4 separate regions of the Homo sapiens genome follow, and all the other regions are reported to be linked to region 1. The links are microRNA targets in miRTarBase. Many come from high-throughput screens and were not tested one by one. Region 1 holds a microRNA gene; each other region holds the end of a gene's coding sequence. Distances are between the middles of the regions.

Region 1 (7,115 bases):
CAAATAGTGGCTAAAAACCTCCTAGATTAGAACCCATTTCAGGTGGCAGAATGCTGGCGTGACTCGGAGGTGTGGGGCTGAGTGGGCGAGTCCACATTTCCTCGTTGGGATATGAGGGGATGAGGTGGCTGCTCAGTGACAGGACCCCTGTCCCGCAGGAGACCCTTTCCCAAGGCCCCTGAAACTCCCCAGGCCCTGCCCAAAGGCTTGGCTGAGGCCGGCATCACCATCTCCCCTCCTTCCCCTCTTCTCCCACTAGGCTTTCCTGTCCTGGACGCCAATGACCTAGAAGGTGAGTCAGACTGGACTCTCACCCGTCACACCCCCAAATTCTCCCCTGGGTGGGGAAGGCCTGCATCCTGGCTGTAATCCTGGATTCATGATCTTTTTTCTTTCCTTGCAGATAAAAACAGTCCTTTCTACTATGGTGAGAGCCCGTGCCCCCTTTCCCCTCCCCACAACCCCACATACTGCTTGGTGCCAAGGGTTCCCATACAGGGTTGGGGCCTGACGTGAGCATCACAGGACAAAGATACGAAGGGACTAGGATGGGGTTACTGAATATGCCACACAGTGGATTAAAGGAACTAGAGGCAGCAACCTGGCCTTTGGGAAGGTTCTATTCCAGCAAGATAGACACACGCAGGAGGTGAGGACAGTTTGCAAGAAGCCATTGGTTGGTTCAGATCAACTGCTGGGAGAAGTGTTGACTTGAGAAAACTTCCTGGAGGTGGTGAGCTATTGGATCAAAACCCTCATCTGGCCTCCAGGTTCCAATGACCTGCTCCCTACTCCCCGCTCTGCCCTCACCTCTCCACGCTCCTCATTCCTTCTGCTCCAAGCCTCTCAGACACAGCAGACATACTGCCAGCCTCAGACCTCTGCACCTGCTGGTTCCTCTGCCTGGAACACTTCCTTCCACAGAACCACATGGCTCCCTCCCTTCCCTCTGCTCAAATGCAGCCCCCTGAGAGGCCTTCCCTGACAACTCCCTCTAAAAGAGCTGCCATCTGACTTTTTTTTTGTTTTAGAGACAGCGTCTCACACTGTTGCCCAAGCTGGAGTGCTGTGGTGTAATCATAGCTCACTGCAGCCTCAAACTCCTGGTCTCAAGCGATCCTCCTGCCTCAGCCTCCTGAATAGCTGGGACTGCAGGCATACACCACCATGCCTGGCTAATTTTTGTATACTTTGTAGAGATGGGTTCTCACTATGTTGCTCAAGCTGGTCTAGAACTCCTGAACTCCTGAAGTCCCAAAGCACTGGGATTATATTAGGTTGGTTCAAAAGTAATTGTGGTTTTTGCAACTGCTTTTAATGGCAAAAATGCAATTTTTTTTTTTTGAGGCAGAATTTTGCTCTTTCACCCAGAGTGTGACTGGCTGGAGTGCAATGGTGCAATCTTGGCTCACTGCAACCTCTGCCTCCCGGGTTCAAATGATTCTCCAGCCTCAGCCTGCTGAGTAGCTGGGATTACAGGCGCCTACCACCATGCCTGGCTAATTTTTGTATTTTTAGTAAAGACGGGGTTTCACCATGTTGGCCAGGCTGGTCTGGAACTCCTGACCTCAGGTGATCCGCCCACCTTGGCCTCCCAAAGTGCTGGGATATCAGGCGTGAGCCACCATGTCTAGCCAAAAACGCAATCACTTTTGCTCCAACCTAATAGGTGTCAGCCACTATGCCCAGCCCGCCCTCTGACTTTCCATCTCCCACCCCACTTATTTTTCTTCAAACCACTTATCTCTGCCTGACCCTGCACGACAGATCGTGTTTGCTGGTGTGTGAACCAGAATGTGAGCACCTGGGATTTTGTCTGTTTTCTTATGGCGGTGTCCCCAGCACCCTGTGCATCCTAGGTGCTCCATATATATTTGTCAAGAGAATGGGGGGACAGATGGAGAGGACACAGGCTGGCACTGAGGTCCCCTCCACTTTCCTCCTAGACTGGCACAGCCTCCAGGTTGGCGGGCTCATCTGCGCTGGGGTTCTGTGCGCCATGGGCATCATCATCGTCATGAGTGAGTGGAGGAGCTCGGGGGAGCAGGCGGGCCGGGGCTGGGGCTCCCCTCCCCTGACCACTCAGCTCTCCCCAACAGGTGCAAAATGCAAATGCAAGTTTGGCCAGAAGTCCGGGTAAGATACTGTTCCGGCATGCCCGCCTCAGGCTGACTGGACGCTTTTCAGGGTGAAAGGGCTAACTCTCCCAGCAGGAGAGGCCTCGGGGCTCTGCCCTTTAGAGTTCCTGCCGCTAAGATTTCCAGGTTTATTGTTTCTAGCTGGTAATCCCCAGGGGGCCCCAAATCCTGAAATGCTTTGGCCCCTGGGATTGCACAACCCCCCAAATGGAAAGGCAGCCAGGAAGACATGTCTGGGCAGGCTAAGAACCCTCTATCCGGAGGGAGAGGGCAAATGGGGGCGGACACCAATCTCACCACTTTTGTCTCCTTAGTCACCATCCAGGGGAGACTCCACCTCTCATCACCCCAGGTAAGATGGGGCAGCATGGGGCTCAGGGGAACACGGAAGTGGTGTGTGTGTGTGTGTGTATGTGTGTGTTTGCACACTGGAAAGAAAAGAACTCAATCCACCCTCACAAACGGACCCCATCACTTCCCGCAGGCTCAGCCCAAAGCTGATGAGGACAGACCAGCTGAAATTGGGTGGAGGACCGTTCTCTGTCCCCAGGTCCTGTCTCTGCACAGAAACTTGAACTCCAGGATGGAATTCTTCCTCCTCTGCTGGGACTCCTTTGCATGGCAGGGCCTCATCTCACCTCTCGCAAGAGGGTCTCTTTGTTCAATTTTTTTTAATCTAAAATGATTGTGCCTCTGCCCAAGCAGCCTGGAGACTTCCTATGTGTGCATTGGGGTGGGGCTTGGGGCACCATGAGAAGGTTGGCGTGCCCTGGAGGCTGACACAGAGGCTGGCACTGAGCCTGCTTGTTGGGAAAAGCCCACAGGCCTGTTCCCTTGTGGCTTGGGACATGGCACAGGCCCGCCCTCTGCCTCCTCAGCCATGGGAACCTCATATGCAATTTGGGATTTACTAGTAGCCAAAAGGAATGAAAGAGAGCTCTAACCAGATGGAACACTGGAACATTCCAGTGGACCCTGGACCATTCCAGGAAAACTGGGACATAGGATCGTCCCGCTATGATGGAAGTGTTCAGACAGTTTATAATAGTAAGCCCCTGTGACCCTCTCACTTACCCCGAGACCTCACTTTATTACAAGATCTTTCCAAATACCCAAATGTCCCTGCAAGCCCGTTAAATAATTCCCTATGCTACCCTTAATAACATACAATGACCACATAGTGTGAGAACTTCCAACAAGCCTCAAAGTCCCTTGAGACTCCCCAATACCTAATAAGGCATGCGAAATGTTCTCATGAACTACCCCACAACACGCCTAAAACTCAAAACACCCAAAAATATCTCCTCCAATGTCCTGAAACATGAACCCAAAAAGAGACCCACAATAAACTCGTGACTTGTCCCCTCATCATGCCGTTTTATCCCTCAAACATCCCCTGAGTCCCTCCATAACCACGAACCCACACTCAGAGACCATGAACTGCGGAAACGCCTCCCTGGGACCTGGGCCGCTCCGAGCACTGCTCCAGGGACACCATCCCCGCCCTGTGCCGTTCACAGGACATCCTCTCCCAAGGATCCACAACACTGGGCGGGGAGGGTGCACAGCGCATTTATTGAGCTCGGACTCGTCTTGTCCTTGCCTCCGTCGCCCATCTAGAAGGGCACCAGGCTCCCCGCGACACCTCCCGCTGTCCCTCCCTGTGCCCCGGCGCACGCGCAAGAGGCGCAAAAGGCACAGCTTGCTGGGCGGCCGCACGCATGCGCACAAGCAGCAGAGGGGAACCCGCCCAGTGCTGAGTTGTCTTCGAGGTTGGCGCTCCTCCAGGAAAGCGATTGGCTGCGTGGAGTTTAGAATGGGAAAGGAATGCCATCAACCCCTCGGTGCTTTCAGAGGGACCAGCGGGGTAGGAGCGGGTTGAGAGGGGGGCTCCGGGACCTCATGGAGCTCTGCACGTGACCTCCACCTCGACTCCATGCAGTGCACCAGCCTGCACCCCCCAGGTTGCCTTTGATGGGGAATCTGCCCCAGCCGAGATGTCCAGATGTTGCTTTAGACCTGAAGGGCAGCTCGGGAGGTCCAGTAGGCTGGGACCCTCTATGTCCCCCCATGGGTGCAGATCCTTTAAGAAGTGGGCTTAAGGCCTAGACGTGTGGCTGATGAACGTGGCCCACGGTCAGCAGCTCACAGGCGGGCCATCACCCCAAGTAGGGCCAGGAGCCAGCCAAGGGGCCGTCCAGGGGCCCCAGCCATGCCCAGAGTCCCGTTGGTGGTCTCAGGCACTGAGGTCGATCTCGTGATGCTGGTAGATCTGTGTGGGGCCCTTAAAGCAAGCAGCAAAGAGGAAGCGTCTGCCGGCCATAGTGATGTGGGCAAAGGCACGGGGGGCCACCAGGGCCGGAGGCCCCAGCTCCTGCAGTGGCTCCAGGAGCCCCTTGTCAGGCTCAAGGCGGAGGACCTGGCTGAAGGCGAAGTCGCTGCCTAGGATGGCCAGCTGGTCCCTGGCGATGAGCAGTGGCTGGAAGACGTGGGCACCGCGCGAGGGAAGTTGCTGCAGCAGACGAAACATGGAGCCGTCCCAGCGCATGACCTGTGGGGGTGTGGCCAGTGAGGGCCTGGGGTCCCGGGGGTCTCTGGGGGCCGTGGAACAGCTTGGAAGCAGAAGCCTGTCGGTCCCAAAACTCCCATAGCTTTCTTATCTTCATAAAAGTCACCACCCACCTGTTCGGCCACACACATGCAGTTGTTCTGAGCCCTTCCCTTGCCCTCACGCCCCACACAGAAGCACTCAGCCATGGACTCTGTCAGTTTCACCTTCTACAGTTGTACATTTCTCCCACCACCTCTGGCTGAACTCCATCCCCTCCTGACTGGACCATCCTGGCAGCCTCTTCCCTGGCCTCTAGGCTCCTCTCCCTGCTCCCCCAGTCTGTTCCCCACCCAGAGACCTTGTGAACACCTGAGTCAGATCAGGGCCCTTCCAGACTCAGAACCCTCCCCTGCCTGCACCTCACTCCAGAAACAGTGGGCAGTGCTTAACCCTAGCATCAGCCTTGGGGGCTCAGTGTCAGGGTGGGGACAGGTGTGGCTGTGGTGAAGTCTGGAATGCATCCGAGTCACAGAGCCAGCATTTGGGGGTAGAATCAGGATGTTGGGGCCAGCATCAGTGTCGGGGACTGGGGAGTGGTTCGGAGTCAGCCAGCCTTGAGGGGGTCAGAGTCTTGGCATCAGTGTGGGGTGGGGTCCTGGTTCAAAGGTCGGCATGTGAGGGTAGGTCAGAGTTTAGAGGCTTAGTGTGCAAGATTGGGTCAGTGCTGAAAAGCCAGCCCCCCGCCCCCAGGCCCAGCCTCACCATGGAGTCCCCAATGTAGCGTGTGAGGCACAGGAACACGTCCCCACCAGCCTGGAAGTGGCGTGTGGCATAGACATCCTCGGCCTCGGGGATGTCTGTGCGTCTCTCGAAGCGGCCACCGGTCCAGTGGAAGAGCACGGGCCGCTGGGAAGCCGAGGCCAGCAGCAGGTGGGGCCGGCCGTCCAGCTCCAGGGCCTCAGCGTCCGTGTCCCGGTGCCAGGCGTGCAGGCTCTGGTGCGGGTAAAAGCCGGGCCCGTCGCGGCACAGCAGCGTGGTGCTGCCCGCCTTGGAGGCATCGGCCACCACGAAGCAGGGTTGCCCTTCCAGCCACAGGAGCTCGGCGTCATTGGGCCGCAGCAGCCGCCGCGGGGCCAGGGTCTGCGTTGGGGCCAGGCGCAGGCCGGGACTGGGCCGGGCCCACAGCTGTGAGCCCCCCCACAGGCGGGCAGCCAGCACGAAGAGGCTCGGGCCCAGCACCAGTGGCTTGCAGGACACCACGGAGGCCGCTGTGGGGAGGTGGGGAGGCAGGTCAGGCCAGCCAGGCAGGCTGCTGGACAGGCAGAAGGACGGGGAGGGGGCTCACCGGGCAGCTCTTCCTCGGGCCGGAAGCGCTGCAGGCTGTAGTCCCAGGAGAGAATCAGGCAGCGGCCGGCGAAGGGCTGTGCCAGCACAATGTGAGGCTCCCCTTGGTAGGAGAAGGGCTCTACGCTCAGTGCCGACTCCCCCACCGTCTGGAACCAGGACAGCTCTGTGGGTGGAGAAGAGAGTCAGGCAGGCCCCAGGACCCCCAGGGTCCTCATTGCTGAGCCTCAGTTTGCCTACATCTCTGAAATGGAGGCCATTCATGGTACCCCCCTCATAGGGACATATAACTGGAATCTTGATCTGTAGATGTTTGTTTGGTTTGGGTCGAGGGGTATTTTGTTTTGTTTTGAGACAGGGTCCCACTGTGTCTCCCAGGCTGAAGTGCAGTGGCACAATCATAGCTCAATGCAGCCTCCACCTTCTAGGCTCAAGCAATCCTCCTTCCTCAGCCTCTTAAGCTGAGACTACAGGTGTGTGCTACCATGGCTGGCTATTTTTTTATTTTTTGCAGAGATGGAGTCTTGCTATGTTGCCCAGGTTGGTCTGGAATTCCTAGGCTCAAGAGATCCTCCTGCCTTGACCTCCCAAAGTGCTGGGATTACAGACATGAGCCACCTCCACCTCCTGGGTTCAAACAATTCTACTTCCTCAGCCTCCCGAGTAGCTGGAATTACAGGCGCCCGCTACCACGCCCAGCTAATTTTTGTATTTTTAGTAGAGATGGGGTTTCACCATGTTGGCCAGGCTTGTCTCGAACTCCTGACCTCATAATCTGCCCGCCTCGGCCTCCCAAAGTGCTGGGATTACAAGCGTGAGGCACCGTGCCCGGCCCATAAATCTTATTTTCTAAGCTGTGTGGCATCACCAAATAATCCCTTAGAAACAGCATCTGGATTAATTCATTTAACTTCACAACATCCCTGTGAGGTACATTCTGTGATGATTTCCCCTTCGCAGATGAGAAAACAAAGGCTAACTGGCACAGGCAGTCTGTTATCCAACAAAATCCATCCTTCCCACCTTCCAGGAGAGAGGATTGGAGCTGGTCACCAGGCCACCCAGCTAGAGGCTGCATTATC
Region 2 (7,115 bases), not on the chromosome of region 1:
TACCTTTCAAGGGGTTACGACTGATGGCAGGCTTCTGGGATCAGCACTCATCCTCTCTGAGCCATACATTCATCTTGGGTAAAATGTGCTGTAAAAAATGCCTGGCCCATAGCAAACATCCAAGCATGGCAGTTGGTGTTCTGTATGTCTCCACAACCCTTCCTGGGCTCTTCCTCTAGGAGGTGGTGCCTCATTCTGTGTGCTACATGCGGATCCCACGGAACCCACAGGGACTGCTCCTCTCTTAGATCTAACAGTAAGAAATGGGAGTGTGAGGAGTGTTCACCTGCTGCAGCCACAGGTGAGGCTGGAGGGATGGGCCGGCCTCAGAGCAAGGAGGGGGCTGTAGGGACTTGTGGTGCCTGGGAAAGGAGGAAGACATCCCACCAGAGGGGGATTAATAGTTGGTGCCTTTGACTTTGGAAGGAAAGTAGCTAGAGAGGAGCTTAAGGACCTGTGCCTGGGAGAAGCAGAGGCTTGAGTTTTCCTCTCCTGCCTTTCTCTCACCAGACTACATACCTGAAAACTCAGGGGACATCCCTTGCTGCAGCAGCACCTTCCACCCTGAGGAACATTTCTGCAGAGACAACACCTTGGAAGAGAATCCGGGCCTTTCTTGGACTGATTGGCCAGAACCTTCCTTATTAGAAAAGCCAGAGTCCTCTCGTGGCAGGAGGAGCTACTCCTGGAGGTCCAAGGGTGTCAGAATCACTAACAGCTGCAAAAAATCCAAGTAACACCTTCTGAGTAGCTGCTGTCCCACACAATAGGGTATGAAGCTGCGCTCCTCCATCGGGTTTGGGGAGGGAGCACTCTGGGACTGTGAGACAAGGAAGCAGGGCCAGCAGTGAGACTATGAGCCAAGCAAAGAGAAGTCTCAGTGGAGCATGAGGAGGGAGCAGTCCAGATGCCAACAAGGAAATGCGTTTATGGCTACAAGAGTGCCTCTGCTTTCTCCTCCTCTCCTCCCACCAAGGATTCTTCCACCTTAATCTTGTTTTCATATGCCTCTTCTTACTTCACCCATGTTTGTTGTTATGCAAATAAAGGTTTTCTCTCCATTGGTGTCTCCTTATAAATTCATTCTGAAATTTGTCTGGGTAGTAAAGATTCTACGGGGTAGAGTACGAGAGTAAGAAAACTCACCCTCCTAATCCATAAAATTTAGGGAATTAATGTAGAACTTTTAGCTTAGAATATAGACATGTTTCTTTGGAGGGAAAGAAACCTGTTTATACGGAAATTGGCATTACAGAGGTAGAGAATCTTCATCAATCATTGTGCAAATAATAAGTACACAGGTTCTCATTAGGGAGGTGAGCCAGCATAGCAGTCCACACTGGGTGGAGAATAGGCCCTTGTTGCAAGGCTTGGGGTCCTGGACTCAAACAGGTCAAGGACTACCATGCTTATACATGGGGCATAAGGGACTCCATTCTCTCCTGACTGGTGTGGGCTTCAGCACACCTCCACAGCATGAGTGAGCCCAGTCAAACCCTCACTGCCCGGTGGTTCGAGCATTTCCGTCCAGAGTTTAAATATGAATTTGCATGCCAGGACATTCAAATTAGGCAAGGTGGCCGGGCGCAGTGGCTCATACCTGTAATCCCAGCACTTTGGGAGGCCGAGGCGGGCAGATGACTTAAGGTCAGGAGTTCAAGACCAGCCTTGCCAACATGGTGAAACCCCATCTCTACTAAAAATACAAAAATTAACCGGGCACGGTGGTGGGTGCCTATAATCCCAGATACTTGGGAGGCTGAGGCAGGAGAATCGTTTCAGTCCGGGAGGTGGAGGTTGCAGTTAGCTGAGATCGCGCCACTGCTCTCCAGCCTGGGTAACAGAGCAAAACGCTGTCTCAAAATTAAATTAAAAAAACATAATCTTCCCGTTTTCGTTCACCTCAGATAATTGTATCACAATTTTTGTTAACTTTCAATGTTTATATTATTATGATGCTAGAAATACTGTTTACCACTGAGCCAGGCAGTACACTATGATTACCTTTCCTCTTTTGTACAATGTTTTTTTCTGAAATTAATAATTGCTTCTTTTTTGGTATATACCTATTGCTAATTCTTCTGAAATGTTGCAAATGATCAACAAAATGTCTCAAAATGCAATTTTCCTCATAGACCAGGCATCAGATCACTATCAGCTGGACTTCTTTTCCTGAAGACCTGCCTCCCAGAGCCGCCGCCTCCAGTGCTGGCTGCTCCTAGAGCTCCTGCACAGCTGTCCTCCTAGGGCTTCCCACAATTATGCCCTTTTTCTTCATTTCCTTTCTCTTGGGTTTGACCACCCAATGCTATCCTTGCTTATCCGGGCGTCCAGGGAAATTTTGTCAGAGCTCTGCAAGTAACAGGAACATTTTTTAATTGTGAGCTTTCATATAAAACACAATATTTAACCCATTCTAAAGATTCAACTCTTGCAGTGATAATTCACAACTGAAAGATGCTCCTTAGATTAAGACTTTAGTTCTAAACCTAGAGTTTCTGTAACTTGGGTCACCAGGCATATTTTTAGGGATCTGTGGTAGTATTAATATCTTTTCTTAAGGAGTCTATTTGTATACCCAAGTGTGAGAAACACTATCTTAACTGAGAGTAATGGCCCCTAACAGTGCCCTCTCGACTTTAGCTTCAGTGGGTAGAAAGGGAGCTTGGGAGGGGGCAGTTTTTGTCACCTAGATGTCAGCTGCCCTACCTCTGTGTACAGTTGACTTTGTGGATACTTGCTTAGCTAACACGACAGTGCATGCATACACACACACACACACACACACACACACACACAGCTATTAACTATTTCTTACTCTTTGTATTTTTAGTCTCCACTGATGTTAATAGCCAACCCTATTTTTATAGGCTGGAAAGTCCAACTTTGAAATGTTCTATTCTTCATCTGGGCCTAATCAGTCATTCTCCACTAAATAACTGGCTTCTTTTTTTTTTTTTTTTTTTTTTTTTTTTTGAGACAGAGTCTCTTTGACCTCGTGATCCACCCACCTCAGTCTCCCAAAGTGCTGAGAATCCAGGTGTGAGCCACCACGCCTGGCCTCTTTTTGCTTTTCTTTTTCTTTCTTTCTTTCTTTCTTTTTTTTTTTTTTTTTTTTTTTTGAGAGGGAGTCTCACTCTGTTGCCCAGGCGGGAGTGCAGTGGTGCGATCTCGGCTCACTGCAACCTCCACCTCCCGGGTTCAAGTGATTCTCTCCTTCCTCAGCCTCCTGAGTAGCTGGGATTATAGGCACGCACCACCATGCCAGGCTAATTTTGTATTTTCAGTAGAGACGGGGTTTCACCAAGCTGGTCAGGCTGGTCTCGAACTCCTGACTGCCTCGGCCGCCCAAAGTGCTGGGATTACAAGCGTGAGCCACTGCACCCAGCCCCTTTTTTTTTTTTTTTTTGAGTCAGGGTCTCACTCTGTTCAGTGGCATGATCATGGCTCACTGCCCCGACCTCCCTGGGCTCAGGTAATCCTCCCACCTGAGCCTTCCAAGTAGCTAAGACTATAGGCATGCACCACCATGCCTGGCTAATTTTTTTTATTTTTTTTTAAGAGATGAGGTTTCACCATGTTGCCAAGGCTGGTCTTGAACTCCTGGGCTCAAGGGATCTGCCCACCTTGGCCTCCTAAAGTGCTGAAATTACAGGTGTGAGCCACCACACCCAGCCAGCTTCTTTCTTAAATAAGCTTTTAATTTAGAATAGTTTTAGACTTACAGAAACATTGTAAAGATAGTATAGAGTCCCCATATATCCCAAACCTAATTTCTCCTACTATTAACACATTAGTATAGCAAATTTGTCACAATTAAAGAACGAATATTGATACATCATTATTAACTAAAGCCCAAATTTTATTGAGATTTTCTTGTCTTTTCTGTTCCAGGATACCACATTGCACTGTGTCGTATCTCCTTCGGTTCCTCTTGGCTGTGATGGAATGGCAGACTTCCCTTGATTCTGAAGACCTTGACACTTCTGAGGAGTACTGGTCAAGTATTTTGCAGAGTGTCTCTTAACTGGGATTGTTCTGATGTTTTTCTCATGATTAGACTGGGGTTATGGGTTTTGGAGGAAGACACAGGAGAAGTGCCATTTTCATCACATCATATCAAAGTTACATAGTATCAGCATGACCTGTCACTGTTGAGGTTGACTTTGATCATTTGGCTGAGGTAGGTTTTGTCAGATTTCTCCACTGTAAAGTTACCCTTTTTCCCCCTTTTCTTTTCTTTCTTTTTCTTTTTTTTTTTTTTTTAGATGGAGTTGTACTCTGTTGCCCAGGTGGGAATGCAGTGGTACAATCTTGGCTCACTGCAACCTCCGCCTCCCGGGTTCAAGCAATTCTCCTGCCTCAGCCTCCTAAGTAGCTGGGATTACAGGTGTGCACCACCACACCAGCTAATTTTTTTTTAGTAGAGATGGGGTTTCACCATGTTGGCCAGGCTGGTCTCGAACTCCTGACCTCGAGATCCACCCACCTCAGCCTACCAAAGTGCTGGGGTTACAGGTGTGAGCCACCGCACCCAGGCTTTTCCTCTTTTCATACTGTACCTTCCAAAGGGAAGTCACTATGTGGAGCCCACAGTTAAGTAGAGGTTTTTATGCAACTCCTCCTTGAGGATGGAGTATCTACATAAATTATTTGGAATGGTTCTGCATGGGAGATTTACCTATTTTATTCTCTCCTGCTTATTTATTTAGCCAATCTTTTTTTTTTTTTTTTTTTGAGACGGAGTTTCGCTCTTGTTGCCCAGGCTGGAGTGCAGTGGTGCGATCTTAGCTCACTGCAACCTCTGCCTCCCGGTTTCAAGTGATTCTCCTGCCTCAGCCTCCCAAGTAGCTGGGATTACAGGCATGCGCCACCATGCCTGGCATTTTGTATTTTTAGTAGAGAAGGGGTTCACCAGGTTGGTCAGGCTGGTCTCGAACTCCTGACTTCAGGTGATCCACCCACCTCGGCCCCCCAAAATGCTGGGATTACAGGCGTGAGCCACCATGCACAGCCTATTCAATCATTTAGTATGGACTCCTGGACTTTGGGTTACAATGTAATAATACTTTATTTTGTTGCTCAAATTGCTTTGGCCACTGGGTGTTCATGTGTCCTTTTCACACATCCCCATCACTGTGTGTCTGGTTTTGTTTTGTTTTGTTTTTGAGCACTTTTTTACTTTCTGACACTGCAAGATGCCCCAAGCTCATCTTCTTTTAAATGCCTGTTTCATGACAAACACATGTTTAAAATTTTTAATACCTATTTTCATAACTGATGTGTCTTATTAGAATTAATTACTGTTTCATAACTTAGGAGCTGGGACAAATCAGTTCACTTAGGGATAGTAGAAATAGATGTTAAATAAAACTTTCCCAAAGCACCTGCTCCCCTTCCTCTAATCATTACCTTTACGGGAACCGTAAACTAAGGCCAGAAACCTCAGATTTTCCTTCAGCTTCCCTCTCTGTTCAGCCAACCTCTTTGTTGTCAGTTCGACTGTTTTTCAAATGTTTGCCTTCCTCTCCTTCCCATTGTCAGTGCTCAGCTCAGACCTTGATGCCTCATAGGATGGGCAGCAAAAGTCTGCATGGTTTCCTGTGTCCACTTGCTTCTCTGACACATCCACCCTTTTCCCTTCTGCCAGTTACCATAAAACATGTGCTAACTCTTTGCTCAGGATGGCCCTGCTGAGATTGGCATTCAAGACCTTCTACAAACAGGGCCTTCCATAGCTGCATCTCCCAGGACATCCCACCCACAGGCCTTCTTCTCTGGCTGCCTCAGAACACTGGGCCCGGGCCTGGGGTGCTCAGCCTGGAGAGTCCTGGCATCCATCTTCAGCCTGTTAAACACAGCCTAAGGGCTACTTCTTCATCTCTAGGCACTCTTACTGTCTCTGTTTGTACCCCCTGTTATAGCCCATGTCATTCTCTGTCTGTCCTACAGTTATGGGTCTGTCTTTCCTGCTAGATCAGAAGCTCCAGGGACCTGTCTGTCTTATTAACCTTTCTTCCCCTCATGATGCCTGGCCCAGGACTCCACGTTCAGAGGCAGTTTAATGTCTACAGAACTGATGGATGCTCCATACCCTGTATTCATAAGCCTGTGTTTTGCTGCCAAACACCAGAGGGCACTGTTAGCATGTCGATGAAGATTATAAACCCTCAGACCTGGAAGGCTGGGAAAGGCTTATGAAAATCTTGCTTCTGTTTTGGGATTACATAAGACTTATTGCGCCTCAATTGTTCTAAACACATCTGTTCGAGTTTATTCATGAGGCACGTTCCTGTTGGGGTTAGAGATGAGTTTGAAAGCTCCCCGTCACAGGTCAAATCCTTAGACAAGACTGCCTTCATAGTCTCTCCAGACCCAAAGTGGCTCTCCTAACCCACCAAAAATATCTCCCAATTACTCATTGAGAGGCATCCAGATGCCCTCTCCTCCACCAAAAATGGCGACTGCCAGTCCCAAGGGGGAATGTGTGATATGGTTCTATTCCTTTTCTGCCCCACCCTCCTCCCACATGCACACATGCACAGGTACCTGTCCACACGAATGCACACTCACTGCCATCAGGACCTCTGGGTGGTGGCTCAAACGGTGGCTCAAAGGCTCTAGCCTCTATGGGCAGGGTGGGAGGATGCTATGAGAAGCAGCACCTCCACTGGCCCTGACCCCAGGGAGACAGCATCAGTTTCCCATGTGCTCCCAGTCACAGCATCATGGGGGCCCCCAGGTGTGAGAAGTCTCCCTAGTGACTAAGCCAGGGAGCTCCATTCCAAAGGAGCTGGCTATTTGCAAAGGTGTCATGGCTTGTACATTTTTCCAAAAAATGACAGAAAAACTGAAGAACTGATTTTTTTCCCAAAACAAAAAACCCTTGCCCTCACTTCTCCCTAGCAAACCTGCTCTAACCCTGGGATCCCTGAGCAACATGACAGCATGAGGTCCAGATGGAAGGGGTAAGCCCCAGGAGCCCCTTCCCCTTGTCTTTGGTGTAAACTGGCTTCTTGACCCTGCCCTGCACACACCCCTAATAAACAGGAAGGCATCCGCGCCATTAGTATCCATCCTTTTCAGAGCATCTGAGACCTGTCTGGACCATCAAA
Region 3 (7,115 bases), not on the chromosome of region 1:
TATTTTAAAGCAATTGAGAGGCCAGGTTTGGTGGCATGTGCCTGTAATCCCAGCTATTTGGGAGACTGAGGCAAGAGGATCCCTTGAGCCCTGGAGTTTGAGACCAGCCTGGGCAATATAGCAAGATCCATCTCAAAAAAAATTTGAAAACTGGATCTCAAAATTTGCACGGAAAGGCAAAGGAATTAGAATAACCAAAACACATTTGAAAAAGAATAAAACTGGAGAATGTATACTACCTGATTTCAAAACTTGCTATGAAACTTCTAGTAATCACATCTATAAGATACGGAAAAAGGACAAGACATATAGATCAAGGGAACAGAATGAACAATACAGGAAAAAACTTACATTTATGGCCAATTTATTTTATTTGAGGGTCTCACTTTGTCACCCAGGCTGGAGTGCAGTGGTACCATAATTGCTGAGTAGCCTCGAATTCCTGGGCTCAAGCCATCCTCATGCCTCAGCCTCCTGAGCAGGTAGGACGATAGGCACGTGCCACCATACCCAGCTACTTTTTTTTTTTTTTTCCAGACAGGGTCTCACTCTGTCACCCAGGCTGGAGTACAGTGGTGTGCTCACGGCTCCGGGGTTCAGGTGATCCTCCCACCTCAGCGTCCCAGGTAGTTGGGACTATGGGCATGCACCACCATGCCCGGCTAATTTTTTGTATTTTTGGTAGAGACGGGGTCTTGCCATGTTGTCTAGGCTGGTCTAAAACTCCTGGGCTCAAGCGATCCTCCTGCCTTGGCCTCCCAAAGCGCTGGCATTACAGTTGTGAGCCACCGCGCCCGGCCCTATTCTTTTTTTTCTTTTTTTTGAGACGGAGTATCGCTCTGTCGCCCAGGCTGGAGTGCAGTGGCGCCATCTCAGCTCACTGCAAGCTCCGCCTCCCGGGTTTACACCATTCTCCTGCCTCAGCTTCCCGAGTAGCCGGGACTACAGGCACCCACCACCACACCCGGCTAACTTTTTGTATCTTTAGTAGAGATGGGGTTTCACTGTGTGAGCCAGGATGGTCTTGATCTGACCTTGTGATCCACCTGCCTTGGCCTCCCAAAGTGCTGGGATTACAATCATGAGCCACCGTGCCTGGCCCTTCTTTTTCTTTTTTTTAGATAGGGGTCTCACTCTGTTGCCCAGGCTGGAGTGCAGTGGCTATTCATAGGTGCAATCATAGTGCACTGCAATCTCCAACTCCTGGTCAGCCGCTACTTCTTAAAATGTTTCTCTGTCTGGTTCATGTTTCAAAGTCTGGTTCATGACTCTGCTACACTTCAGTTTCAAAAGCTGGTAGCAAAGGAAAAGAACATGCCAAGAGCTGACGTTCTGCTGTGATGAGACCACCCAAGCTCCCCGTATCTATACCAAGGGATCTGTTGCCCAGGCTGGAGTGCAGTGGTGCGGTTTTGGCTCACTGCAACCTCTGCCTCCCGGGTTCAAGCGATTCTCCTGCTTCAGCCTCTCAAGTAGCTGGGATTATAGATATGCACTACCACACCCGGCTAATTTTTGTATTTTTAGTAGAGATGGCGTTTCACCATGTTGGCCAGACTGGTTTTGAACTCCTGACCTCAAGTGATCTGCCCGCCTTGGCCTTCCAAAGTGCTGGGATTAGAGGCATGAGCCACCACACCCGGCCCGGATGACTTACTTAGCTCTTCAAGGCTTACGGAAGTTGGTACCTTGTGGAACTAGGCTGGGGAGGTCTGGATGCCAGATGTTCTTCTGAGGTTGCTGTTCTTATAATTGCTGTATTCAAATATATCACCCAGTTGAGATGAAATGCCTAGAGCACAGCTGCGGAGTGGGACCAGCTGGGCTGAGGAGGGAATGAAGTACAAACATCCAGCGATGTTCAGGGCCCTGAAGCAGCTGGGAAGCGCAGGCGTTCAAATCACCAGAGGCATGGCTATATCAGCTCACATATCATGCACACAGATGCATGTCCTAGGCGTGGAAACAAAGCTCCCCAGACCATGGTTAACTCACCGCATGCACCTGGAGTTCCATCTGCACCAAGGCGCCAGTGGTTACTTTTAGAAATAAACAAGTCACAACGAGGACATTATGTTAAGTGGAATAAACCAGTCACGAAACGACAAGTACTATATGATTCCACTCGTAAGGAGGTAGTTAAGAGGAGTCACAATCAAAGGGACAGAAAGGAGAATGGTGGTTGCCACGGGCTGCAGGGAAGAGGAATGCGGGGAAGAGGAATGCGGGGAAGAGGAATGCGGGGAAGAGGAATGCGGGGTCAGAGTTTCCATTCTGCAAGACGAAAAGAGTTCTGGAGATGGATGATGGTGATGGATACACAACGTTATGAATGTATTTAATACCACTGAATTGTGCACTTAAAAATGATTAAGATAGCAATTTGTGTATTTTACCACAATAAAAAACAAAACAAAAACAGCCAGGCATGCAGTGGCTCATGCCTGTGATCCCAGCACTTTGGGAAGCCGAGGCGGGAGGATCAACTGAGGTCAGTAGTTTGAGACCAGCCTGGCCAACATGGCGAAACCCTATGTCTACTAAAAATCCCCAAAGTGCTGGGATTACAGATGTGAGCCACCACACCTGTCCCCGCTGGGATTTTTAAAGTATATCTGGAAAGATCCAAAAGAAGCCAGCAGCGATGGTTGCCTCCTGGAAGGCATCAGGGTGGCCAAGGGACAGAAGAGTAAGGGAAGCCTTACACAGCAGCTCCTTTGCATCTTTCAACTGAACCTTCACCAAATTTTTAAAGAAAAATAAAGGTGCATGATCAACAATCAAACTTCTAGGACCGTCCCCTAGCAGGAGAGCAGCAGCAGCAGCAGCACACAGACCTGCCCGAGGGCGTTTCCCGGAGCTCCACAGCCACCAGCAAACTGTGGGACACAACTGCCACCTCCTTTAGGAAGGAGGTGAGCATATTACAGAACTGCAATCATACAGAATATCACACTGTGGCTAAAGAGTTAAGCAGTGTCTACTTCGATGAACATGGAAAGGGGTCCATAGCATCTCATTTAATGAAAAAAGTGAGTTGCGCAGTGTGTACAATATTCCATTTTTGGTATATTTAAAAATCGTATGTGTAAACGATTTGCCCACCCGCACAGAAGCGTCTGGAAATGCCACCGCCAACTGTGAATAGTAGGTCCCTCTGGGGACAAGGGTTGGGGGAACGATTTCCACTGGGGCATGTCTTATTGAATTTATCATGAGACATCTGGACCTTTTCCAGTAATTTTGTCCAAGTACAGCCTTGGCCTGTTGCCTGAAAATAAGGTTTTGGAGCTGGAGGCAGTGAGTCCAGCTGACGAACCCAGGAGGGAGCTCGCTCTGAACAGGTCTGCCCCGCTGAGCATCGGAGGCACAGTCGGGGCCCTGCTTGGTCCATGACAAAGTCACTTCCTTGTCAAATGCATCAAGACCCGCCAGCATGGTGATCTGTCAAAAACAAAAAAAAGTGGGTGGCAAGCCCTTACGTGACCCTGAGGTCAAGATCACAGAGTCCCTCGACCGTCGTGGAACTTGTGAAACCTGAGTATTTCCCAAATGAATGACTGCCTGGAACACTCTCCCTGCAAGCCAGTTTCGGAAGCCCACCCAGTCTGTAGCTGTTATTGTTCTGCACCCCACAGCAACTGCTTGGAGACCCCCGGGTCCAGCAGGCGGAGGCAGAGGGTGCCGAAAGGGTACGGTGAGGCAGCTGACCAAGGGCTGAAGCCGGTGACCCCTGGGCCAGGACTCAGCTGCCCAGCCCAGAAGTCGGGGGCTGCCTCGGTCCATGACACACATGCTTCTCAAAACCAGCGAGGTCAGGGAATTTCCACCCCTATCCAGGCCTGGAGGGTCTGTGAGGCCCGGAGTCCTCTTGACTGGAGGACTGTGGCTTTGTAAACATCCACAACAACACCACCCACAGCTGCTGATTGTTTATTGCACAAGAAACTGGCAATATCGAGGCAAGGGGCGGGCATTACAAAACAATCTGGTGACCAGCCCATGGCTAGCAAAGGGCATTCCGTACAGACACTTCAGTTATATACACGTACGCACACACACGCACGAACACACATGAACACCCGTGAGCCTGATGCTTCCAAACCTCACCAGCAGCTTGCACCCTGACCCACCCTGGAGCGGCTTCCATGGTAACGTGCCACAGGGAAGTACAGCAAATGACTGAAAGGGACAGAAGAGGCTGCGCTGTGGCAAGCTAAGCCACTCAAATCAGCACACACGACAGAGGCAGACGCAGGCTGCACCTCCCGGGCCGGGGGAAGGTCGAGAATCTGGGAGCATGGAGACTGTGCTTGGAAGGCACCCGGGACCAGTCCAAGGGGCTGCCTGGGGGTCCTAGAATCCTGGGGGCCCAGGCCGGGAGTCTGCCATGACTACTGCCCCAGCACCCCGGTGGGGCATGGTCACCTTGAAGATTTCAATATGACCTATGAAGATTCCAGTTACGGCAGAGTCCCCGTGTTGGAGGCTGGCGGGAACTGCAGAAATCAGATGGGGCTATGCAGCAGCTCAGGGCCTTTCTGCTGGTTTTCATGTCCTGTGTGCAGATAAAGCCTCACACCTATGCAGAATGAACACTTTCCGCTGGCGGGCTGCACTCCATTCTGAACAGGGGACCAACAGGCCCTCCTGGAGCTCCAGGGGCTGGCAGGGGAGCTCCACAGCCGGACCCCTGTGTCCCGCCACTGGGGACTGCCTGGGGGACCCTATCTAGCAAAGGGATTTCTTCTCTATTGAAGGCGGCAAGGCTAGGAGTGGCGCTCGGGACCTCAACCCCTCTCATTCTGCCAGGCTTGGGGACGAGGTCCCTGCCAGGCTGTGCCGCCGGGTCAGGCCTGCCTGAGCTCACGGAACCGCCAGGTGGGTTCCTGAGAGGCGTGGCTGTTTGGGAAACTCTTGGACCCAAAGGTCTGGGTCCCTCAAGGTCTCAGAACACCTGGGGTGCCAGCTCCTGGACAGAAAGTGACAGCAGCGTAACAAAAAACCTGCAACCCTACAACACAACCACTTCAAGTTTATACATGGACAAAGTCTGAGGGAGTTTGCTGTTTTTGTCCCGTGGATACCCAGGCAGCTTAGACAAACCTTCATTGGCTGAGAATGAATTAACTGGCCGGCATGTGTCCTGCGACTCAGCCTCCACCGCTGGCGCCTGCTAGGGAGGCAGGCAGAGATGGCCTCGCCCCAGGGCCCGCTCCCTCAGACCTTCACTTCATCTCCATCATCAGAGAGGCTCAATTACAGGCAGAACCTCCTTTGCTGGCAAAGACCCTTGGCGCTCTCAGTCCCGAACAGCCACCCCCAGTGGCCAGTCTCCTCGCCGAACTAGTCCAGGAGGTCTCCGGCCTCTGCGGCAGCCCCTGGGGATGCAACACCTTCCCTTGCACACTCACATACACCCAGGGTGGGGTCTAGAGGACAGGGGAGAGTTTTGCAGAGAGGGTCAGCCCTCTGGAACTTTGCAAAGGTGGGGCCAAAGGCAACTAGGGGGCTTTATTCCAGACTGCCATCCGCGGGTCGGGGGAACTGCAGGGCCTCCTGGGATCAGGCTTTTCTGCCAGCAGCGAGATGACAGTGTGGTCCCACACAGGGCCACATCCACGGGGGCCTCCCAAGGGCTGCGGGGCCAGTGGCCTCTCAGGCAGGGAGGACTCAGGACTACATGTGCGCTGGGGGGCGTGGGAGGGGCGGCCTCGGTTACTCCTGTCCAAAGCCCTCGGTCTCCTCAATGGCATACAGCAGCTTCTCTCTCAGCTGTTCGTAGCTCTTGTAGGGTGGAAGATCCAGACGGTTGAAGCTATTGAGAGTGGGGAAGCACGACAGTCAGCCCTAGGAGGCCAGGGCTCTGATAGCCCCACCATGCCTGCCTGCAGCAGGGCCACAGGGCTTGCACCACACTGGCTAGGGCTCAGGGGCTGCCAGTCAGGCCTTCACATTGCAGGTGCCTGGACCATGGGGTGTTAAGGGAGGGGCCAGGACAGCTGGAAATTGGTTGCGGGGGACACTTGGGGCAGTAGCTCTTGGACTACTGGAACAGAAGTGCTTCATATGTAAAACCCGGTAGATCAGATGCCCATCACAGCCCCATCTCTCCAACCCAACACCCCAGGGCCACGCAAAAGCTGCCAGACTCGAGGCTATGAAGCTGCTACACCCACTGGGCTGTCCCAGGAGCTCATCGGGTCTGAGGCCCCCCGACCTCCCACTAAAACCAGCAGGCTCACCAGGTGTGGCTTCTGGGCAGCCAGGTTTCCTTGCCAACTTTGTCAATGCAAAACTTCTGTGGTCCGTTGCTACCTGTGATCCAAGGTAAAACACGCCGACGTCAGCAGAGACGTCCCTTCCCAAAGCAGGATCCTCCGGCTCCACCCACAGATGGGCTCGGCCCCAGGATGCAGAGGCCACAGCTCTTCTCCATCCCACTGACGTGCTTCCAGGAAGAGACTAGGTTTCCCCCTCCCTCTGAGCTGTCCGCACTGCCAGCCAGGACGCCAGAGGGCGAGAGAAAACATACCGATGAGTTCGGCAAATCCCCCGACGGGCAGGCGGCAGGTACCGGTGACAAACTGCAGCAGCCGGATCCTCTTCTCGTTGTCCATCTCCTTCACCACCTGGAAGTCCGCAAGTCAAGGCACAGTCAGGCAACCCACGGGGCCCAGTACTTTGCCCGAACGTGGAGCTCTCTAGCTCAGCGGGGCCCCTCTTTGGGGCTGAGAACACAAAGCCAGGTTGGCCAGGGGATGACAGCCTCCAACCTGAGAAACCCCAGAAGTGCTTTTGCTAAGAGGCTGTGTGTGCATGAGATTCCCACCAGTCCATGGGACATCTCTGGGTCTCAGGGACACCTCAGGCTGGGTATTCTCTTCCCATCCACGTTCTGCTTTTAGAGATGACTAAATATGGGAGTGACTGCTTAATGGGTATAAGGTTTTTGGGGAGATGAAATGTTCCAGAATTAGATAGTGGTGCCAGGTGCACAACACTGTGAATGTACTGGAAGCCACTGCTCTGTCGCCCAGGCTGGAGTGCAGTGGCACGGTCCAGCTCACTGCAGAGCAGTGGCACGGTCCAGCTCACTGCAGTCTCCACCTCCC
Region 4 (7,094 bases), 29 Mb from region 1:
CTACGGAGGGGTGGGTGGTGGGAGTTGCAGCCAGTGGAGGACCCCAGAGCCCCCCAACACCCCACAGTTGGACTCTTCCTGGGCAGGAGCAGGGACAGTCCTTCCTCCCCTCCCGGTGTGGCCTTGGAGCTGAGGGGCTGCCCCTGCAGCCTTGGGCCTTCCTTGGTTTGGATGTGGCTACCTCTGTCCTGTGCTGGGATGGACTGGGTCATGGGTGGGGCTGGGCATGGGAGCAGGAAGGGTCCAGGGCCCCCACACGCTGCTGAGACCTGCCCCCCCTCCCCAGGCCTACACGGATGAGCTGGTGGAGCTACACCGGAGGCTGATGGCGCTGCGGGAGCGCAACGTGCTGCAGCAGGTATCGCCCCCCTGAGGGTCCTGCCCGGCAGAGGTCGGGGTGCCTGTGAGGAGTGTGGGCTGCGGGGGCCCCTGGTGCTGCCCCAGGAGCCCCTACCTCTGTTAGGGAACAGGGCAACCCCACCCTTGGCCCCCTGCCCCTGAAGCCACCTGCCACCACCTTACAGATTGTGAATCTGATCGAGGAGACTGGCCACTTCAATGTCACCAACACCACCTTCGACTTCGACCTCTTCTCCCTGGACGAGACCACCGTGCGCAAACTGCAGAGCTGCCTGGAGGCCGTGGCCACATGACCCTGGGCCGCGTGCCGGGCCCCCACCGCCGGGGTCCTGGGAGGCTGCAGCCAGGCCTCGCCTGCCCTCCTCTCCCGTCTCGCCTGCCCGCAGCACTGCCTTAGCGACAGCCCTGTCCTCGCCCGCACAGCCCGCTGCACTTTCCTCGGCGGCTCCCTGCCCACTCTCCCCGCTCCATCGCCAGGAGCCCTGGGGCCGGGCTGGGCCACACGGGAGCCGCCCCCCGGGCTCTCTGGGCTCCCCTCAGAGAGCGGCTGGTGTTGAAGGCAGCTCTGGGCAGAGACAGGGCCGGGGGCCCCTCGCCCAGCCTTGGGACCAGCCCCCACTGCTCGGCGGGCTGTGCGGCGTCGCTGCCCCAGCCTTTCTGAGCAGCGGATCGACGGCTGGGGGGCATCTCCAGCCTCCCGAATGGTTCAGAACACACCCTCCGCCCACCCTGGACCTCAGAAGGCCCTGCCTGTGTGTCTGCGTCGTCCTCCGTGTAGACCTAGCGCCGGCTCCTCCCCGGCTCGCGCTGCGCTGGGGTCTGTGCTGTATAGTTCTCTCTATTATATATGTGTGTGCACTGTCTGGTCAAGAGCAGTGTCCATGTGCGTTTCTGTGGCAGCAGTGCACGTGGGGTGGGTGGGGGGTGCGTACGGTGGGGCTTGTAGGTTAAGATGTCTCTGCGGTGGTGTGGGGCTGGAGGCCGAGCCAGGCACGGCAGCTGGCCCTCTCCAGGCGCATGGAGGAATTCTCCCTTTGCCGTTCCAAGGATGCCGCCGCCTCCTACCGGGGCTCCCGGGGGGGTCAGCCAACACTACAAAGGGCAGCGAGTCCTCAGGGCGCCCGGGAGCCACCAGTCTGCTCTCGGGCTCTACTCAGACTAGCGCCAACAGTCTCCGCGGACAGACTCGCATCAGCCGCCCTGGGGCTCGGCCTCCTCCCATAGGCTCCTCTTCCTCTCTTTCATTCAAGTCTTCAAACTTTGAAAAAAATATGAGCTTTTGCCAAATAAGACGGGATAGTTTATGGAGTTTTCTGAGGCGCATTGAACTCTGGTCAGCCCCTCGAGCGTGGGCTCGGCCATCAGCAGGCCCGGTGGGTTGGCCGGGCTGGCCCTCCCAGGCTGCCTTTCTCTCTGGTCGCGGCCTGGCCCGCCCCGGCCTCCACCGCCGCAATTCATGCTGGTGCCGCGCCCGCAGCCCCACTCCTGGTATGCCTGAGATTCTCCAGGGGCCAAGCCGGTCCTCCTTCCCGGCCCACTCTTCCAGGGCCAGGACGCTCCCGCGGAGCCAGCCCATCGTGGCTGGGGGTCCCAGGGGCTGGAGGCCTGCCTGGTTAGCCTCTGTTTCCCAGACATTGACTCGAGGCGCCTCCAGTCCTCTCAACCCCCTGACTTTCAAGTCCTTTCAAGTCCTTGTGCCCTGACCAAGTTATGAGGAAAAGAGGGCTGAGGGCCTGGAGGTGGGCTCGCACCCCCTCGAACCCACCTAGATGTCTCCTCCTCCCCAGCCTATGAGTTCAGACTTGGGGGGCTCCATCTGTCCCTCCCTGAGGTCCCTCATCTTGTCCCTGCTCTGATTCTGTCAGCAGATCCTGAACACTCCTTGGTGGGGACCCATGCCTCCAAGGCTGCCCCCAATGCCAGCTGTCCTGGGGAAACTCCCCAGAACTCTCGGGGAAAGGCCCGAGAACCTTCGGAGGAAGCCTCCGGGACTCCTCGCCACCTGCTCTGTTTCTCTCCCGGCCCCACTGCCTTCAGGTATCAGGAAGAGGGCAGGCCCCTGTGCCCCCTCTCCCCTTCCCAGGGCGGCCAACAATACTCCACCATGGGGCGCTTCCTTTCTTCTCTGGAAACTAAGACATTGGACTGAAGGAACTGGCCTGAGGGGGGCTGACCGGGGGCCCGTGCTGCTGGGAGCTCTACGCACAAGAGGCCGCCGGGGTCACGGACAGGAACCTCAGCCCAGGGTGCTGGCCTTTCTCCTTCGCAGGAGTCCCCCAAAATCCACACAGCGACTCGAGCAGCCTTCCACTCAGCCAGAGGAGGGTCGGGCTCCCCCGCCTGCTCTCGGTGGTGGCGTCTGGCCCTTCCTGCCGTTTCCAAGGCCTCCGGAAGCACCAACCCAGTTCTCAGTTACCTCCTCTGGCCGGAAGGCCTCACGTTGTCCTCCAGAGCTGCTCTGGGCCCAGGGCTGGCTCCGTGACCACCTGATGGACGTGCTGGGCAGCATGGGCTCCCAAGGCAGCATCCCCAGCTGCTCTCCCACCCCACCCCAGCTGCCCGGCGGCTGGGCCCACGAGGGCTCTGGGGACACTTCCATAGGAAAGGGGCCTGGCACTTTGTGATTGCCACGTGTTTCCTGTTAAGCCGCCTGCCCCCAGTGCAAATCTCTGTGTTTTGCTCTCTCCTGAACAAAAATGTAAACCGACGCCGGAAAGCAAATGGTATCGAATACCTTTCTTGCCCATAAGGGTTTTTACAAAGAACGTGTCTCACTAGGAACTAGGACACTCATCGGCCCGAGACCAACTCCTGGATAAAAGGAATAAGGAGAATCGTGTTTGTAACGAGTTACAGGATTGTTTCTTTCCTGGATTTTAAACTTTTGTTAAATTGTGAAATTATGGAGGAGTTTTATAGAAAAAAAAAGTGAAATAAAGTCAGATGGGAAAGCAGACGCATGCATCTGCCTGGTTCCTCCTGTCCAGTCAGTGGGCAGGCTTGCGAGGTAGCCTGGGGCCCCCTGCCCCGACTACGTGTCCCAGTGCCCCCAGATCAGTGACCAAAACAGAGAAGGAGGGTTGGGACCAAGCCTGGTGGGGGTGGGGAGTGTGAGCAAGGCTGGAGACGATGCTACCAGCAATTCAAGAGGGCAGAGAATTCGGCTCACATCCTGCTTCTGATGCTGTGCTCTCTACTTGGAAGCAGACAGCAAGGTTTGGGTTGAGAAGAAAACTTGGTTTCATAAGGTGGATGCATGGATGATGGATGAACAGATGGGTGGGTGAGTGGATGGGTGGTTTGATGGATGAGTGGATGATTGGTTGGGTGGACCATGGATGAATAGATGGGTGGGTGGGTGGAAGAAAGGATGGAAGGATGGATGGATCGATGGGTGGATGGAAGGAAGGAAGGAAAGGAGGAAAGGAGGGAGGGAAGGACGGAAGGAGGGAAGGAAGGGCAGATGGGTGGATGGATGGAAAGGATGGATGGTAGGAAGGATGGATAGATGGGTGAGTGGATGGAAGAATGAATGGATGGGTGGATCAATGGATGGGTTAATGGGTGGATGGAAGGAAGGAAGGATGGATGCGTGGATGGATGGATGGATGGATGGATGGATGGATGGATGGATGGATGGTTGGATGGACGGAAATAAAAATGTAGGCAAAGACATTTTTTCCCAGGAGCCAGCGTGCCATCTCCCAGTTTCCCTCTGGTGGGTTTTTCTCTGGCCTCAGTGTGGCAGAGCTCAGTGAACCTCCAGGAGACAAAGCTGTCACTGGCCCCATTTGAGCAGATCTGTCCCCTCTGTGCTCCAGCTCCAGCTCCACCCAGAGGAGCAGGAGTTCCATTCCTGAGCAGCCCACATTACAGGATCACCGTGGCAGCCACTGATTGAGATCACTTTTGTCAGCAGGCAGCAGCTGGGGACTCAGCTGGGCTCAGCTTAGCGCTGGGGACTCTGGAGCATGTCTTCTCCCTTCTACTCTGGAACCAAAAGATCCATTCCCAGCATCAGAGTGTGGCTTTCCCTGCCCCGTGCCTTACCAGAGAAAGGTTCTTTTAGGCCTTCGGGGTATGGTTTTGGGTCTGAGCTCCTAAAGTAAGAATATGGAGTGAAAGAAGGTCTACAGTGGTTCCTTCAGGGTTCCCAGACCCTCCAAGGTGCAGTGGAAGGACTATGGATGTGTAAAAACGTGGTAGGGCTTTCTGGCCAGGCATGGTGGCTCACACCTATAATCCCAGCACTTTAGGAGGCCGAGGCGGGTGGATCATTTGAGGCCAGGAGTTCAAGACCAGCCTGGGCAACATGGCGAAACCCTGTCTCTAGTAAAAACACAAAAATTAGCCTAAAGTACAGTGCACACCTGTAGACCCAGCTACTTGGGAGGCTGAGTCACAAGAATCTCTTGAACCCAGGAGGCAGAGGTTGCAGTGAGCCGAGATTGCACCACTGCACTGCACTCCAGCCTGGGCGACAGGAGAGACCCTGTACTAAAAAAAAAGAAAAAAAATCTGGGCGAGGTGGCTCACGCCTCTAATCCCAGCACTTTGGGAGGCCAAGGCGGGTGGATCACCTGAAGTCAGGAGTTTGAGACCAGCCTAACCAACATGGTGAAGGCTGTCTCTACTAAAAATAGGAAAAATTAGCTGGGCGTGCTGGCAGGCACCTATAATCCCAGCTACTCGGGAGGCTGAGGCAGGAGAATTGCTTGAACCCAGGAGGCAGAGGTTGCGGTGAGCCAAGATCACACCATTGCACTCCAGCCTGGGCAACAAGAGCGAAACTCCAACTCAAAAAAAAAAAAAATGTAGTCAGGCTTTCCCTAAGAGTTGTCTCATGGACTCTTCACAAGCACTCCGTGAGGTGGGCACTGCTTCATCCCTGTCTACAGATAAAGAAACTGCCTCAGCAAGCCGAGTTGCCCAGGATTTTTTCTAATTTTTAATTTTAACTTTTTTGAGATGGAGTCTCGCTCTGTCACCCAGGCTGGAGTGTAGTGGTGCGAGCTCAGCTGACCACAACCTCCGCCTCCCGGGTTCAATCCATTCTCCTGCCTCAGCCTCCTGAGTAGCTGGGATTACACGAGCTCACCACCACACCCTGGTAATTTTTGTATTTTGGGTAGAGACGGGGTTTCGCCATCTTGGCCAGGCTGGTCTTGAACTCCTGACCTCATGATCCACCCACCTCGGCCTCCCAAAGTGTTGGGATTACAGGCGTAAGCCACTGCGCTTGGCTCTTTTTCTTTCTTTTTTTTTTTTTGAGATGGACTATCACTCTCACCCAGGCTGGTCTGGAACTCCTATCCTCAAGTGATCCATTATCAAGTGATCAAGTTTTCCTTGAAATGGTTTTTGGGCTGTTATTGTTTATTATTTAGGATGTTTTTATTTTAAGTTCTCCCATGATTTCTCCTAGGAATTCAATTCTTCTTCCCCCTTTTCCTGCCTCCCTTCCCTCTTTCTTTCTCACATTTCAATTTGTTCCATCTGGAATTTATTCAGCCATGAGGTAGGGCCCCAGCTCTATTTCCCCAATAGCTATGCAAGGCGATCCACCCCATTTATTGAATAACCTGTCTTCACTTATTTGAGATGCCGTCTTTGGTTGCATTTTTCAATTCCTGCATACGTTTGTGTCTCTCTCTGGCTTCCCTCATATGCACAGTACTCACCTTTACATTTCTGCCACTGTGTGACCTAATTAATATCTGGTAGTGTGCCCGGACGCAGTGGCTCACGCCTGTACTCCCAGCACTTTGGGAGGCCGAGGCGGGCAGATCACCTGAGGTCGGGAGTTCGAGACCAGCCTGACCAATATGGAGAAACCCTGTCTCTACTAAAAATACAAAATTAGCCGGGTGTGGTGGCGCATACCTGTAATCCCAGCTACTCGGGAGGCTGAGGTAGGAGAATCGCTTGAACCCGGGAGGTGGAGGTTGCGTTGAGCCGAGATCAAGCCATTGCACTCCAGCCTGGGCAACAAGAGTGAAACTCCGTCTGAAAAAAAAAAAAAGTCTGGTAGTGGTAGTTTCCCTTTATAATTCTGCTTCAGAATTTTCCCAGATATTCTTGCATGCTTTTTTCTTCATATAAATGAATCCGCTTATGTTTCAGAATATTTTTATCTGTTGTTCTGACGTTTTAATTTTAATTTGTTTTTGTTTTAGACGGAGTCTCGCTCTGTCACCCAGGCTGGAGTGTAATGGCACAATCTTGGCTCACTACAACCTCTGCCTTCTGGATTCAAGTGATTCTGCCACTTCAGCCTCCCAAATATCTGGGATTACAGGCACCCGCCATCATGCCCGACTAATTTTTGTATTTTTTTAGAGAGGGGCTTTCACCATGTTGGCCAGGCTGGTTCTGAACTCCTGACCTCAGGTGATCTGCCCGCTTTGGCCTCCCAAAGTGCTGGGATTACAGGCGTGAGCCACCGCACCCTGCCCATTTGTTTTGTTTTTTGAGGCGGGGTCTCATTCTGTCACCCAGGCTGGCATGGGGTGGCGCTATCACGGCTCACTGCAGCCTCACCCTCCCAGGCTCAAGCAATCCTCCCACGATGGCTTCCAGAGTAGCTGGGGCCACAAGCACATGCCATCAGGCTCAGCTAATTTTGTTTGTTTGTTTTTTAATTTTTGTAAAGATGAGGTCTCGATATGTTGCCCAGGCTGGTGTTGAACTTCTGGGCTCAAGCGATCCTCCCACCTTGGCCTCCCAAAGTGCTG

What was found. The annotated mature microRNA hsa-miR-6887-5p reads UGGGGGGACAGAUGGAGAGGACA and lies in region 1 at 1,887-1,909, shown strand. An mRNA with a match to its seed (bases 2 to 7 or 8) in the 3' UTR can be bound and repressed. Matches are read on the target gene's strand: a 7mer-m8 pairs with bases 2 to 8, a 7mer-A1 pairs with bases 2 to 7 and ends in A, and an 8mer does both.
Region 2: miRTarBase lists PHF7 as a target of hsa-miR-6887-5p. The part of its 3' UTR that is shown has no 7-base or 8-base seed match.
Region 3: the mRNA of WWP2 is a reported target of hsa-miR-6887-5p. Seed matches in the 3' UTR shown: 7mer-A1 at 5,692-5,698.
Region 4: the mRNA of MLLT1 is a reported target of hsa-miR-6887-5p. The part of its 3' UTR that is shown has no 7-base or 8-base seed match.

Annotation. Positions count from the first base shown.
Region 1 is chr19:35,120,819-35,127,933 of GRCh38, forward strand. MIR6887 (microRNA 6887) reads left to right here and starts at 1,882; the gene lies at 1,882-1,946. FXYD3 (FXYD domain containing ion transport regulator 3) reads left to right here. Exons shown (of 9, transcript NM_005971.4): 4 at 260-292; 5 at 404-427; 6 at 1,947-2,021; 7 at 2,100-2,136; 8 at 2,453-2,490; 9 at 2,623-3,506. The coding sequence ends at 2,639. LGI4 (leucine rich repeat LGI family member 4) reads right to left here. Exons shown (of 9, transcript NM_139284.3): 7 at 6,035-6,199; 8 at 5,452-5,957; 9 at 3,695-4,689. The coding sequence ends at 4,375. RefSeq lists enhancers at 1,439-2,328, 2,329-3,216, 3,487-3,576.
Region 2 is chr3:52,422,581-52,429,695 of GRCh38, forward strand. PHF7 (PHD finger protein 7) reads left to right here. Exons shown (of 11, transcript NM_016483.7): 10 at 180-301; 11 at 511-1,061. The coding sequence ends at 737. Among named protein-coding and RNA genes, the nearest start is that of PHF7, 15 kb to the left of the region's middle. RefSeq lists enhancers at 5,386-7,115, 6,114-6,213.
Region 3 is chr16:69,938,544-69,945,658 of GRCh38, reverse strand. WWP2 (WW domain containing E3 ubiquitin protein ligase 2) reads right to left here. Exons shown (of 24, transcript NM_001270454.2): 22 at 6,536-6,632; 23 at 6,246-6,318; 24 at 3,920-5,818. The coding sequence ends at 5,719. It also overlaps a transcript of CLEC18A not described here. Among named protein-coding and RNA genes, the nearest start is that of MIR140, 9.0 kb to the right of the region's middle.
Region 4 is chr19:6,206,601-6,213,694 of GRCh38, reverse strand. It overlaps MLLT1 (MLLT1 super elongation complex subunit), which reads left to right. Exons shown (of 12, transcript NM_005934.4): 11 at 287-358; 12 at 525-3,314. The coding sequence ends at 653. Among named protein-coding and RNA genes, the nearest start is that of MLLT1, 70 kb to the left of the region's middle.